Homo sapiens: one gene and its partner. The protein of the gene in region 1 purifies or fractionates together with the protein of each later gene. This does not show direct contact. Each region holds a gene or a part of one and is shown on either strand. Other genes may lie near its edges.

The links. Proteins that work in one complex are often made in the same cells at the same time.
Region 2: the proteins of DAB1 (region 1) and TRIM40 purify together in Homo sapiens (affinity purification with western blotting; one study listed by BioGRID). This does not show direct contact.

Annotation. Positions count from the first base shown.
Region 1 is NC_000001.11:57,414,061-57,417,560, forward strand, and holds part of DAB1 (disabled homolog 1), read right to left. Parts: intron 1-3,500. UniProt on the Homo sapiens protein: Signaling adapter of the reelin-mediated signaling pathway, which regulates the migration and differentiation of postmitotic neurons during brain development.
Region 2 is NC_000006.12:30,146,140-30,149,228, reverse strand, and holds the end of TRIM40 (E3 ubiquitin ligase TRIM40), read right to left. Parts: intron 2,245-3,089; coding exon 2,020-2,244; intron 1,710-2,019; coding exon 1,687-1,709; intron 1,505-1,686; coding exon 1,417-1,504; 3' UTR 501-1,416; downstream 1-500. UniProt on the Homo sapiens protein: E3 ubiquitin-protein ligase that plays a role in the limitation of the innate immune response. Mediates inhibition of the RLR signaling pathway by ubiquitinating RIGI and IFIH1 receptors, leading to their proteasomal degradation.

The DNA.
Region 1 (3,500 bases):
AGTGAAGATGCTGTGAAGATTGTTGAAATGACAGCAAAGGATTTACATAAACTTATTGATAAAGCAGTGTCAGGGTTTGAGAGGACTGACTCCAATTTTGAAAAAAGTTCTGCTGTGGGTAAAATACTGTCAAACAGCATTGCATTCTATAGAGAAATCTTTCATGAAAGGAAGAGTCAATCAATGTGACAAACTTCATTATTGTCTTATTTTAAGAAACTGACCCAGCTACTTCAATCTTCAGTAACCACCACCTTAATCAGTCAGTAGCCACCAACATTGAGGTAAAACCCTCCACCAGCAAAAAGATTATGACTTGCTGAAGGCTCAGCTGATCATTAGCATATGTGAGCAATAAAGTATTTTCAATTAAGGTATGTACATTGATTTTTTTACATAATGCTATTGCACCCTTAACAGACTACAGTATAGTGTAAACATAACTTTTATATACACTGGAAAACCAACAAATTTGTGTGACTCACTTGATTGCAATATTCTCTTTATTGCAGTGGCCTGGAATGGAACCAGCCGTATCTCCCATGGATGCCTGAATTTATTTAATAGTAAGCATTCAAAAACACCCATGATTTTCCTCCTCTCCTGACTATTTGCCATTTAGAATAAGAAATACAGGTAGCATATGATGAAAATTAATATATAGCTAGAAAATATAATTTTAAAGATAACATTTACAATGGCAATTACAAAAATATAAACCACCTAAAACTCAATCTAAAAAGAGTGCATGCCCTTTGAAGAAAATTATAAACTGTATTGAAAGACATTAAATAAGAACTAAATAAATGGAAAGAGTTACTACATTTACAGATAGAAAGACTCAGGCTCAATGTCCTAATGATGGCATTATCTTTTAATCAGTCTATAAGTTTGATAAAACTCAAATCAAATCTCAACAGTATTCTTGTGAAACCTTGAAAGATGATTATAAAATGTATACGGAAGAAAACAGCCCAAGAAAAGCCAAGACACTCTTGAGACACTTTTGCAGAAGGACACTTTTAGGGATGTGTCCTGGCCAATACCAAGATTCATTAAAAAGCTATAATAAAGTTTGGTTAGGGCAAAAGAGTGGCTAAAACATATGCTTAGAAATTGACTCTAAGTTCCAGGAAAATCATTTTTCCATATGAAAGAAAATTAGAATAAATGCCTACCTCACACAACACACACACACACACACACACACACACACACACATATATGCACACACTCCACATGGATTAGAGAACCTAAATTTGAAAGGCAAACAAAACAATAAAGCTTTTAGAAGACAACAAAGGAGAATATCTTCATGACATCAGAGTGGGAAAAAAAAGGCTTTCTGAAACAAGACATAAAAAGTGCTAACCATAAAAGATTGATAAATTCAACTACGTTAAAATTAAGAAGTTAGATAGCAGAAGGTTGGCAAAAATCCAACTTCTATGTGGTCTATAAATCTATTCAGCTTCCCAAAGGCATAAATAACCTTTTTGCATTTATTGGAACTATATTCTGACAACACATGCCATAGCTCAGATTCAGCATATGGTTGGCCCATCTTTGACTTTGTCCACAATTAGATTACTAGCACTACTGGTTTAACCTGAGTATATTTGAATGGATGTGGCTTATACCTAGAACTTTCGTGAGTAGACATATAATACTGCTCAGAATAACATGGCCTGCAATTCAAGACAAGCACCACCACATGCCATCATTATAGGTACTGCTACACCATCACCAGGGACTAGGATTGTACAGCATCTCTTCCTTACCCTCTGTGCAGCGTTTTTCTATGTTTATGATCATTCACACCACAAAGTTCATTCTTGTTCTGCTAACTGCTGGGATTTAACTGCTACTACAAAAACTACCAGGAGAAATATATATCAGTGAAAGCAAGGATAGAAAACCCTAGGGTAGATCAACTTCTAACCCCATGAGAGAAGGTAATCTACTGTCTCCCACACAGCCATGATTTTGTACCAAAAGCTTCCTCCGGTGAGCCTGTGAGTCTTCCATTTCCTTTCTCCTCTCATTCATTCTACCATGCATTCTTCACCAATATTCTGCCATTCACTCTACATGTTGACATATATACCATAATATATGAATATAGTCTGAGACAATAAGAGAAGAAAATGTCACCCACATATGACTTATGTTTAAGGTGATGTAAATTTTTTCAAGATGTCCCTTGCATATATCAAAAGAGATGCTTCTGTTGGCATGATAGTATCTAATAACAACACTCTGTTACTGATGGGAAGTTATTTCTTGGGGACCCCAAGGAATGGAACCTCATAAACTTTCAATGCATTTCATGTCAGGGTACTGAGTAATTACATAGCATTACAATTTTAAAATTTCCTCTTTGGATGAAAGCAGTTTTATTTATAATTTTTCCTATAATGGAAGTAGATAGCTCTAGTGAATCGACTGTTTTAATAGGACAGATTTGGATAAGTAGTTATTGTTAATGATTTTAAGAGATGTCAATAAAACATAGAAATGACTTTCAACAGATAATTATTATAATTCACTCCCAAATCTAGATTACAAAATAAAGAATCACAATAAAAAATGATTTTCAAGTTCACTGATCACAAAGAATTTCAATATTGTCTATGGAAAACAATTTACCCTAATCTTTTTACCCAAATTAACTTAATGAACCACAGCAGACTGAACACATTTAATTCAATTCAATTAAGCAGAAACTTATTGAGCATCTACTACATTCCAGACACCGGAGTTAAAAGGGACAGCTATATTTCCTTTCCCTAAGTAGTTCATAAATGTCCTTTATTCCAGTATAATTATTAGGCAAAATACTATTTCTTTCTTATTACCTATGTAGTGACTAGCTAGACAGTTTATAAATGTCCTTTATTTCAGGAAAATTATTGGACAAAATACCATTTCTTTTTATTATATATACAGTAATGAGCTAGAAAGTGAAGAGAATTCAGTGGAATTGTTTAGGTTTGTTCTGGAAAAATATATTCAAAAGAATTATCAAATTTAGGATAGTGACTATGTCTGCCAAGAGAAGGGGACGTATGATCAGAGAAAGGTTACCAGGAGGTTTCAACTGTATTTAACTGGCTTTATTTCATTAGCTGAGTGGTAGGTACAAAACTTTTTATTATATTGTTATTTATACTTTTTGTGTGTCTTAACCCATTTATGCCAGAGGTTGCAAATTGTTTTTTGTGAAAAATGAGACTTTGGTGATGACCTTGAGCAGTAGGATATAAATAACGCCCACAAGCTTAGCATTCCAATAAAGGAACACTAGGCATAAATGGGTTAAATATTCTGTCCTACATTTCAAATCACACACATATTATTTTCATGATAGAATGAAAACTACTCTTAAAAGGCTTAAGTGATTCTCTACATTTTTCCCAATCTATTTCATAAGACACTGAGAGATGCTACTTGAAATCAAAGGTTCTATGGCAAATGAATTTTTAAAATTCTTCATGAGT
Region 2 (3,089 bases), on another chromosome or scaffold:
TACATACATTTAAAATTTTACTGGACACCAGCTATGAGCCAGACACTGTTCTAGACATGAGGACACAGACAGAATATGATCCCTGCTCACCCAAAGAAGTGAGGCTTATACAAAAATGACTAATATACAATTGTATTCATTATCCATTACTCCACAAAAATTACCACAAATTTACTGCCTTATAACAACACATGGCCAGGCGCGGTGGCTCACACCTGTAATCCCAGCATTTTGGGAGGCCAAGGTGGGCTGATCACCTGAGGTCAGAAGTTCAAGGCCAGCCTGGCCAACATGGTTAAACCCTGTCTCTACTAAAAACACAAAAAATTAGCCGGGTGTGGTGGCGGGCGCCTATAATCCCTAGCTATTAGGGAGGCTGAGGCAGGAGAATTGCTTGAACCTAGGAGACAGAGGTTACAGTGAGCCGACATCACACCACCGCATTCCAGCCTGGGCAACAGAGTGAGACTCCATCTCAAAAACGAAAACAGAAAACAAAAAAACACACACACATTTATTGTCACACTGTTTCTGTGGGTGGGAAATTTTGGCACAGCTTCACTGGGTCCTCAGCTTAGGTACTCACAAGACTATAATCAAGGTGTTGGCTGGACTAGGTTCTTATCCGGCTCAGTTGGGGAAGAATCTGCTTCCAAGCTCACTCGGGTTGTTGGCAGAATTCAGGTTCTTGCAGCCACAAGACTGAGGGCCTCTGCTTGTTGTTGGCTGGAAGCTGCTCTTGGCTCCTAGGAGGGGCTCTAAAAGGGTGGGCCAGCAAGGAGGAGTTCTATACAATGCAACACAGTTGCCAGAGTGACACCCTATCACCTTTGCCTTATTCCATTCATTAGAAGCAAGTCACAGATCCCACTTACACTCAAGGGGAGGGGACCAAACAAGGGCATGAATTCCAAGAGGTGAGGATCATGAAGGGAGGCTGTCTTTGAGTCTGTCTTCCACAACAATAATAAATAAGTGCCAGGTGAGTGGTACAGACAACAAGTACTGCAGGAACTCAGCTGGGCTCCACATGTGAGGTGGTGTCACTGCTGATGAGCTCGGGCCATTCAGAGGCCTGGAGGATCCTATTTGAATGAGATTGTGAGAGATGGGCACTACCATCAGTTTACAGGCAAAATGGAGATTTCACAAATGCTCCTGGAGACCATGGGCCCCGACCTCCACAGTGGCAGCCCCAAGCATGAGCCTGTCCTGGAAGGAGGCTGGCTATCGTCCAAGAGTCAGAGGGTCAGGCATCAGGTGATGACTGTGGACATGAAGAAATGGTGACATGTTCAGGAGCTGGCAGGCCCGAAGATGCACTGGGTAGACCCAGTGGGGGCCTGGACAGGTTGGAGGAAGGAGAGAGAGGAGGCTGAGGTGAGCCTGAAGTGAGGTGTCCCAGGGATGAACAGGTCAGAGCTTCTGAGGGGGCTGAAGAAGCAATTCACTGACTCCTTTCTCCAACTGGGGATAAATAACCTCTAATTTCTGTGGAGCACTCCTAGAAACAAAGAAATCTTTCATAGATTAATATGTATTCATATATTCCATTGGCTCTTCCATTGGCCATGTAGCATCAAGATACAAAAGCTAACGGAGCAGTGGGTCTCCTTGACCTCTGTGCATGTCTGTGTTGTGTGGGTTTATATGCACATGTGGGAAAGAAGAAGGGACAGCTCGTACCTGTTCAGTAAGTCACCAGCATTCTAGGAGAGAGAAAAAGTGAGAATCATAATTGGTTCTCAGGTTCCTATCACCTCCAAATTCCTTTCCCAATTCACTCTTGGAGGCCACTCTGGGGTGCCACCTTGAGAACTGGGGGAACATAGCAACACCCCTCTTCTGTGCCCATTCTGCTGCAGCAGCACTCTGTAGCCTGGAACAAGCCACATCTACCACAAGTCACCACATATCACACAGGCCCCTCCCTCTTACACCTCCCAGAAGGGTGATGCAGATGGGCTGCCTCCTATCGGGGAGAATCCCAGCCCTTGGGGAAGGCCTCAGGGTATGCACCTTCAGTGTGTTGGTGTCTAATTCCTTGGCCGTCCTTTCCAGATCAATGACCAGGCTTCTGAGCTGTGTTACTGCCCTGGAGATGTCAAGGATTCTGGCCGCTTCTGCTGGCATGTGCTCCAGCTGGCCCAGCCACTGCTGAGGGAGGGCACCCAGCTGTTCCCTGGTTTGGTGCTGGCTCTCCGGCCCAGCCTCCAGCCTGTGGTTCCCGTGGTCTACCTGAAACTACAGGAAAGGGGCTCCCTAAGACTCAGTGTCAGGTGGCTCCCTCCTGGCCCTTCACAGTCTCTGAATGTCTGAGCAGGAATGCTGATTCCTCAGTCCTCTTGCCCTCATGGTGTTGCCTCTGTGTGTCACAGGTATAGCAGAAGCAGCTTTGATTCTCATAAAGGCAGGGACACCTCACCTTTCCACCTCACTCTCTGAATATCTACAGATGCCATGTGACCAAGAGGAATAGAAAGGTAGACTGTCAGAGACAGAAATGGAGGCCTATGGCGGCCGGGCACGGTGGCTCACACCTGTAATCCCAGCACTTTGGGAGGCCAAGGCGGGCGGATCACGAGGTCAGGAGATCGAGACCATCCTGGCTAACATGGTGAAACCCCATCTCTACTAAAATATAGAAAAAATTAGCTGGGCGTGGTGGCAAGTGCCTGTAGTCCCAGTACTCGGGAGGCTGAGGCAGGAGAATGGCGTGAACCCGGGAGGCGGAGCTTGCAGTGAGCGGAGTTCGTGCCACTGCACTCCAGCCTGGGCGACAGAGCAAGGCTCCATCTCAAAAAAAAAATAAAATAAAATAAAAAGAAACAGAGGCCTATGGCTTGTGTAGTAATTTTCAGTTGACGAGACACTGGTCTCCTTTGATCCCTACTGTGATCCAGGCAGAGCAGGACTGGTTCTCATTTAACATGTAAGTCACATAAAGATCAGAGGGCTTAACTTGCGTAGGTCACTCAACCAGCAAACTTTGACGCCAAGGCCAACACCCGGGTTTTCAGCCTCCACGACCATCTGCCCACATCAGGCTGTTCCAGGGACAGACAGATGTCCAGAATAGTTAAGTAAGG